3 separate regions of the Homo sapiens genome follow, and regions 1 and 2 are each linked to region 3. Evidence: fine-mapped expression QTL. A gene starts in region 3. Each other region holds a variant in brackets. All regions are shown on one strand. Distances are from middle to middle. Region 1 overlaps ELP1 (elongator acetyltransferase complex subunit 1). Region 2 overlaps TMEM245 (transmembrane protein 245). Region 3 holds the start of ABITRAM (actin binding transcription modulator).

Evidence for each region. PIP is the estimated chance that this variant, and not a neighbour inherited with it, causes the effect.
Region 1: its variant is fine-mapped to the expression of ABITRAM in whole blood (TOPMed, PIP 0.98).
Region 2: its variant is fine-mapped to the expression of ABITRAM in whole blood (TOPMed, PIP 0.97).

What each region holds. Positions count from the first base shown.
Region 1 is chr9:108,910,576-108,913,075 of GRCh38, reverse strand. It overlaps ELP1 (elongator acetyltransferase complex subunit 1), which reads left to right. Exons shown (of 37, transcript NM_003640.5): 11 at 582-812; 12 at 1,896-2,066. Among named protein-coding and RNA genes, the nearest start is that of ELP1, 22 kb to the left of the region's middle. The variant C/T (reference allele first, on the strand shown) is at 1,512.
Region 2 is chr9:109,018,626-109,021,479 of GRCh38, reverse strand. It overlaps TMEM245 (transmembrane protein 245), which reads left to right. Exons shown (of 18, transcript NM_032012.4): 18 at 975-2,854. The coding sequence ends at 1,020. Among named protein-coding and RNA genes, the nearest start is that of CTNNAL1, 6.6 kb to the right of the region's middle. The variant C/T (reference allele first, on the strand shown) is at 1,641.
Region 3 is chr9:108,932,896-108,935,749 of GRCh38, reverse strand. ABITRAM (actin binding transcription modulator) reads right to left here and starts at 1,350. Exons shown (of 6, transcript NM_017832.4): 1 at 1,185-1,350; 2 at 61-112. The coding sequence starts at 1,263. ELP1 (elongator acetyltransferase complex subunit 1) reads left to right here and starts at 1,626. Exons shown (of 37, transcript NM_003640.5): 1 at 1,626-1,886. RefSeq lists a silencer at 1,124-1,403 and an enhancer at 2,154-2,383.

The DNA.
Region 1 (2,500 bases), 22 kb after region 3:
TGAAAATAAACATGTGGGCCAGGCACGGTGGCTCAGGCCTGTAATCTCAGCACTTTGGGAGGCCGAGGCAGGCGGATCACAAGGTCAGGAGATCAAGACCATCCTGGCTAACACGGTGAAACCATGTTTCTACTAAAAATACAAAAAAAAAAAATTAGCCGGGTGTGGTGGTGGGCGCCTGTAGTCCTAGCTACTCGAGAGGCTGAGGCAGGAGAATGGCATGAACCCGGGAGATGGAGCTTGCAGTGAGCCGAGATTGCGCCACTGCACTCCAGCCTGGCCGGCAGAGCGAGACTCTGTGTCAATAAAAAAAAAAAAAAAACGAAAATAAACATATGAATAAAAGTTAAAAATAGAAAAAAAACAAGAAAATAAACATATATTTCTGACCTTATTGATTCTTGATATTTTATCTGCATGGAAAGCTATTTTTTGGCAGTTATTATTGTTCTTATTTTAGAGACGAGGCTGAGCAGGAAGGGTCCTTTGAAAAAGAAAAGATTGCCCTTGAACCCCTCTGGCAAGTGGGATGAAGTCTGCTTCCCAGCCTCTAACGGCCTTCTTTTCATTTTCCCTTGCAGTTCAGCTCTGGACTGTTGGAAACTATCACTGGTATCTCAAGCAAAGTTTATCCTTCAGCACCTGTGGGAAGAGCAAGATTGTGTCTCTGATGTGGGACCCTGTGACCCCATACCGGCTGCATGTTCTCTGTCAGGGCTGGCATTACCTCGCCTATGATTGGCACTGGACGACTGACCGGAGCGTGGGAGATAATTCAAGTGACTTGTCCAATGTGGCTGTCATTGATGGAAGTAAGCTCCTGGGAAGTGTGTCCATGAGCCTGCAAGGGGTCCTGAGCCTAGGGCCTGCAGATGTGGTGGTTTGACTGGAACAGTGGGGAATCTTTATTTGTTTTGGCTGTTTGGGTTACTTGTTTTTTTATTGAATGGGATATAAGGTGGGGTATGTTCTCTCCTGAGAACCATTGTCCCCCCTCCCCCACCAGTTTCCTGTTATACTGCATCTGTGGCCTTCACACGTTTACTTGCCTGGCCTTTGAAGACACTGAAAACTTTGACTCTAGGTAGAGAGGATGACAACAGTACAGTCTTGTGGGATTGGGTGTGTTAGCTTTATCTGTTTGCCCTGACACAGATTTATAATTGACCCTTATACCACCCCACTTGTGTTGCTTTGTTTCCTGATACAAATGCTTGCTGATATATACCTCTCCAGTATGTTCAGTTCATGCATAAACGTTTGCCTAATATGAAGATTAGGTTTATATTTTATAATGAGGTAGAAGGTTTTTTTAGGGGGTGGGGTGGGAAGGGCAAGACTGAAGAGTGAAGTAGTCACCTTAATGAATAGTTTCATTGCTGATATGAAAGGGAGCACTGGCTTCTAAGATTGTAATGTGAGGTGGTATATTAATTCATATTCTGTGTAATATTCTACATAATACTGATTTTATAGTCATGTATTCTATATAGAGAACTTAATCAGATCTG[C/T]GTTATTACCAAATCCACACATAGGAAAGTGCTTTAAGGATTTTGAAAGTATTAATTCCCTTGGTTTAGTGTGGCTTGGTTGCAGGCCCAGGTTTAAAGCTAGAGGTCTGACCTCTTGGCCTTTTTGCCTTAGTCCCTGGCACCTGAAACTCCAGGTACTGAGATGGACTCCCCTAGGCCTAGAGGTGACAATAGCCAATTATGGACAGAACCCATGACATTTCCCCATCCCACACTGTTTTTAGACTTGTTCCTGAGAAAAACATTGAAAGTTATTTTTTTGTGAATTGCCATTATTGTTTAGATATACTGTGATGTTCAGATGGCTTATCTTACAAATTGAATATCCCTAGGTCTAATCCTCTTCTTTCTTTTTCACTGCAGACAGGGTGTTGGTGACAGTCTTCCGGCAGACTGTGGTTCCGCCTCCCATGTGCACCTACCAACTGCTGTTCCCACACCCTGTGAATCAAGTCACATTCTTAGCACACCCTCAAAAGAGTAATGACCTTGCTGTTCTAGATGCCAGTAACCAGATTTCTGTTTATAAATGTGGTATGTTATAAAACTTTTGCCAAGATGTTCTGAATCAAGTCCCTTCTACTCCTACATAAAAGCAAATTATAGTTTGGTGTTGCCATAGGTCTAGTGTTTCTCAAAATTTTTAAGTCTGCAGTTGATATCATTATCATTATGATATTTAATTGCCTTGGGTTTTTGTTTTTTTTTTTTTTAATCCTATACTGGTTTGTACGAGCCATTCCTTTTCCCTTACTGACTTGAAGAGTCAGTTATTTAAGAATAACATTGGACTCTGGAAATAACATAGTATGTTATACATTGTTAACATGTTTTACTCTTTTCATAGCCTTTACACATATTTTCAGTTGATCTCATCCCTCCTAGGAGCTGTGTCAGAGATGGGGTTTTCCTCTTTTGTAGATGAGGGAACACAGTGTCAGAGGTTTTGTAATTTGTTTGAACAAGAA
Region 2 (2,854 bases), 86 kb before region 3:
CAAATATTTTTCTGTATTTCTAATATGTGGACTTATTGTAAAGGAGCAATATAACTTCTATCTAAAAGAATGGTAATAGACTGTGCTTTATATCTGTATCACTGTTGCATAAACATCTGGTCCCAGCCTCTCTCCATCCTGATGTACTGCCAGCCTTGGTGTGAGGCATTTTTGTCTAATATGGGTGCTTGAGCTCATGTTCATTGATAAATTCTGACCTGGCCATTTGGCTGCCAGCACAGATGTAAATTTAGCCAGGTGATTTATCTCAGCTCAGACATGTAAATTATGTAGCAAAAGCAAGCTAGCTACTACAGTACTGAGATAGACACTTCATGTATGCAGCAGTCAGGCACGGTGCTCAGCCACCTTCATCCAGCCCAGATATTACCCGCCAATAACATTGTTCGCTTAGCTTGTTTAATGTGGGTCAGAAACAGTTCAAGTACAAGGTCACTTGATGAAAAGACCTAACCCATTTTTCCTGCACTGAACCACATCCCTTAGAGCTTGGACTCTCTGTTGGATTACGATTTCTATTTTGTAATAAAATGTATCCACTTAGCATTTAATCTTTGGTCTCTTAGTGGTTTTTCCTCTTTAACATCAATCATCATATCCACTTCCAGCCAGTAACAAGGTGGAAGAGCTGAAGAAGATTGCTCTTCTCTTTTAAGGAACTGCCCAGAAGTTGCACAACACTTCTACTTAAATCTCATTAACCAAAGCGTAGTCACGTGGTCATGTGTAGTTTCAGGGGAGTCTGGGGAAACAGTCCTTTGGATAGATCCAGCAAAAAGATGGAGTTCTTGTTAATGAGAATGAGCAACAACTAGCAGACTTTGAAACAATACTCAATGAAAATCTTAAGAAAAAATAGTGACTATATAATCTCATTAGGGCTCCAAAAGATTGTAAAAATAGGATACTGTTTTATGGTAATCAACTAATCATTCCGTCTTTTTTTCTTTTAGGACTTTCCGTGACATTTCTGAAGATCTGAAATCTTCAGTAGGTTGATGTGGTTTCCTCTGCAGTGATTTTTCTAGGAAGTTCAAATTTGACAGCGAGTTCAGCTCAGCTGTGGCCCTCTGCCCTTCCAGCTGTGCCTAGCAAGCAAAACCCAGGAAAGAAGCAGAAGCCTCCTGGCCTTACATACAGAATGCCTGGACAAGAGAGAACTTGCTGCGGGCTGCTTTGTATTTTAAAACACAGCTTGAGAGTTCAGAGTTGGTGGTTTGCTCACTTAACTGTTGTTAAGATGGCTTGAAAAGTTTCATTTTATACACTGGTACCCTGGCTTGAAATTTTTCCACTTTGGTTATCTATGTTACTATATTATATATTTATAAAGTTATTTTAAGAACTCTAAACTACCTGCTGTTAAAAGAATAGATGGTGTAATTTTTTCCTGGTTTAAGAAATGTATTGTTAAACTTTTCTAAGACAGTCACTTTTCAAGGAAGAGGGCTTTCACTTTTGAGTGTGTAGTTGAGTGAGCAGGAAAAATGAATCTTCTACCCTTCTCCCACAATGTATTATACGCTCTTTAAGAAATAATAAATCATAAGTATAAGGGTGGGGTGGCTTATTTGATGTTCAGTTTTATATTATAACCCTGGGAGATACAAAGACTGAAG[C/T]TCTTCCTCCTCTTCCTTTTCTCTTCACGCTTCTTTACACTATTGCCAAATTATAAAACTTGGCTGACCACGTTGAAGTGAAATACTTATTAAGCTGCTATGAATGGTAACAGTATGATAAAATTCATGCTGTTATTAGGTTTTCTCCTTCCAGGTGGTTGAAGTGAAAAATCTCAGGTGTAGCAATACTCTGATTTGTTAAATGTATCCGTTTCATTATTTGGAACTCTGCCAATAAGTTAGTTTTCAGCAGAATTTTGTATTTATGTAGTATTTTCCCATCTCTTAGCACAGTGCCTTGCACATGACTCTAAATGAATGCTTGTTGAATTGAATTGCAACTTTAAAAATATCTCAGATATCACAATAACCAGCATAGTGCTTTACATTTTACAAAGTCCTTTTGCACATACTATTTCACAAGTACATCACATCAGCTTTCATATAGCTTTATATTATTTTACATCAGTTTTACACTGATGGAGAAGCTAAGGTTCAGAAAAGTGACCAACTCAAAGTCGTAAAGTGTAGTAGGATTTGGCCTCAGATCTTTGACTCCGTTGTGTGCAGATTCTGCTGTATTAGTGTTCCTTCTAAATATTGTATGCAGTTTTCCCAGTGTTACGAGATTGGTGTTGCTATCCATTTGTTGTGAATGAAGACTTGTCCTATAGTACATGACAGGGCTGAGAGTGGACTGTAGTTCTTAGCTGAACCCTTTCTACTGTTTAAAACAATCATCAGGCCTATCCTCTGCTCCCAGGGGAATGTGGGAGAGAAAAGGGTTCTTGGCCAGGCTGTAGGTGGTGGCTCACATCTGTAATCCCAGCACTTTGGAAGGCTGAGGTGGGTGGATTGCTTGAGCCCAGGGATTTGAGATCAGCCTAGGCAACATGGCAAAACCCCATCTCTACAAAAAAAAAAAAAAAAAAAAAAAAATTAGCTGGGCACGGTGGTGTGGCTATAGTCTGAGCTACTCAGGAGGCTGATGTATGAGGATCACCTGAGTCCAGGAGGTCGAGGCTGCAGTGAGCCAAGATGGCGCCACTGCACTCCAGCCTGGGTGAGAGAGTGAGACACTGTCCCAAGGAAAAAAAAAAGTGTTGGGGGGTAGTTCTTAAGCGTTGAAGATTTCCTTTTTGGAAAGTATTTAAAGGTAGAAATATTAATAATTTTTCCTAAAACATCTCCCTAAGAAGTCACTGATAATTATA
Region 3 (2,854 bases):
CCAGGCTACAATACCAGGAAAAAAAAATTTTTGATAATTTAAAATTCCCAATTTGCTTACCGGTTAGAGTGCTGTAGTATACAGTGGTCCTCACAAAATTTTCCTTTGACATCTAGAAGAATACATGAGTCTGTTGGTGGCTGAAATCAATATTTACTACCACTATGTGGTACTTTCTTTGGGTCATATAGTTGATAATGAAGACTGGACACATACATGCTGCATGCTGATCACGGGTATCCCTTCATTACTCAAAAAGACATACCTAAAGGTTTCCTAGAAAGTATTTAAAGAGATCTGGCCCAGATAGAATAATTTATTCAACATTAAGGTAATTAACTCCTTGCTCCATCTTACTTTACACTCACTTCAAAATGAGTACACGTAGTATTTTTGCTAGGAAAATGCAATTAGCATCCCGTTCTTTATGATATATATTTTTTGTTGGTGGTTTCCAGGACTGTCCTGATGTTGGTGCAAGTCCGACATTCTGGGAAACCCCTCAGTCATGGGTGAACTAGGACAGGTTGGTCACCCTATGTTTGGCCAACAGAAAATATGCTACAATATATATTTTTTAAACTGAGTATAACCATTATCACTGAATGAAAGGAAGAAAGGAGAGTCCCCAACGATGCTCCCACCACTGGTTCTGCTTACACAAAACAGTACAAAAAGAATACCTACTTCTAAGTGGCAGATGGCGTCTCTTAAGGTAAATGTATAGATTCTTCTTCTTTCTAAATGTCTCTAATCTAACCCACCCTCTTCTCGCCATCCCTACTGCCTCTACCTTAGTTTCGATCTGATCATTTAAATAATTTTATGTATCGCTACTCCCTGTGAGAGTGAGCCCCTCAATCCCTCCAGGCACTTAAGGACTGTTGCAACCTAGCCCTCCGCCTACCTTTGGGGCCTCCGTTTAGAGTACTCATCTTACTGCGAGCAACACCCTAGAGCTCGCACTGCAATCGCCGGCCCCAGAATGCGCCCTGAAGTATTTCAGGCCACCAGGTCTTTGCAAATGCCATTCCCTGGGGCTAGACGGAACACAGAAGTCCAGTGCCTTCTGACGTGGGGACGGAGAGCCAGGGAGAGCGCGCGTGGCTTATGATCTGTCAACATAGTCTACACAGCATTAGGCCAGTGCGGCCAAGGAGGGATCAACATCACTCCGCACTTACCCGGTTTGTACCAGCGAGTGAAGTATCGATCCACGAGCGAAGGCACCACCGGCTCCGCGGCTTCGGGCTCGGTAGCCATGGCGACCTCCGGCGCCGCCACCCCCGCCCTCCGGGACCCCAGCGCTTCCTCCGCGCAGCCCGGACTGGGCGTGCTCTTCCGGCGCACAGCGCGTGTCGTGCGCACGCGCGCTGCTCTCAGGTCCGCAGGTTCCACCCCCCCCCCCGCCCCCCCCAATTACAGTGCTTTGGGGTTCGACATCAAAACAGAGATCAAATACAAAAGTTTGGGCAGATGGGCAAGAGGGCAGAGGGACAGGGGACGCGGCCAATGTAGCTCCTCTACCTCTACGGTGCCAGGCCTACAAAGAAGGCCGGCCGCCGTAAGTGACCAGAAGCGGGCCCGGCCTCGCCCCCTCCGCCTGGTGACGTCACTCCCGCGCCGCACTCCCAGTGCTGCGGCTGCCTAGTTGACGCACCCATTGAGTCGCTGGCTTCTTTGCAGCGCTTCAGCGTTTTCCCCTGGAGGGCGCCTCCATCCTTGGAGGCCTAGTGCCGTCGGAGAGAGAGCGGGAGCCGCGGACAGAGACGCGTGCGCAATTCGGAGCCGACTCTGGGTGCGGACTGTGGGAGCTGACTCTGGGTAGCCGGCTGCGCGTGGCTGGGGAGGCGAGGCCGGACGCACCTCTGTTTGGGGGTCCTCAGGTAAGCGATCCATCCAGGGTAGGGGCACGGGAGTGGACCTCTCCGCCGGCGGTGTCCGGGTGAAGGAGACCCGGAGCCTCCTCTGCCTGCTGCGGGCCGGGGACTGGAGTGCGGGCTGCACCACCTCTTTCCTAGAGCCTTAAATTCTTTTTGCAGCCTTGCCACCTGCTCCATCGGGGGCGCTGGGAGGCGCGACAGCCCAGGGATGCCTGCTGCCCCTCCAGCCGGACTTAACCCAGCCTCTTGATTGCTTGCAGGGGGTTGATAATAACGCTGAAAGCGAGAGTATTAATTCACGATGGAAGGCGGCGGTTAATAGAGGCTCGGGTGCTGTGGTGCGGGTCCTTTCTCGCGTGTGAGACTTTTTCGTGGAGGTGGTGTCCTCTGTGCTTCTCCATCTAACGTGGTGTTTTACGTGGCTTTCTCTCCCGTTAACGATGATCTCCGTGGAGACAGTGGCTGAGTAATCTTCAGATCCCAGTACTTAGCAAGTGCTCAGTCGGTGTTGGATGTAGGCCACAAACCGGATCGTAAAGAATTCAACTGTATATTGACAGCCACGGAACTAATCAATGAATAGATCCGTATGAAGAGTAAGCAAAAAGGCAGCAAAGACAGTTTTTCAGCTTGGGGACATAGAGTAGAAATGGTCTGTCCCCAAATAGTGGGAACTGTCATTTGGGGGAAGAATAGCAAGTTCTTTGCTTTCCAGGTCGCATTTGATGTGCATGTGAGACATGCTTGTGATTCTATCAGGAGGTTGAAAATGTGGGTTTAGTGGTAAGTTTGGGCTAATTCAGTCAGGGCTAGGCATTTAGGCCTAATCAGCGTATTGGTGATCTACCTGGTATATGTAATCATGCATGTGATGTCTAGCCAAGAGGTGGATAGTCGAAGGAGCAAGGGAAGAAAATGAAGCAGTTATCAGGAAATTAAGAGAGAATCCACGATTGACCTTTGGTGTGGAG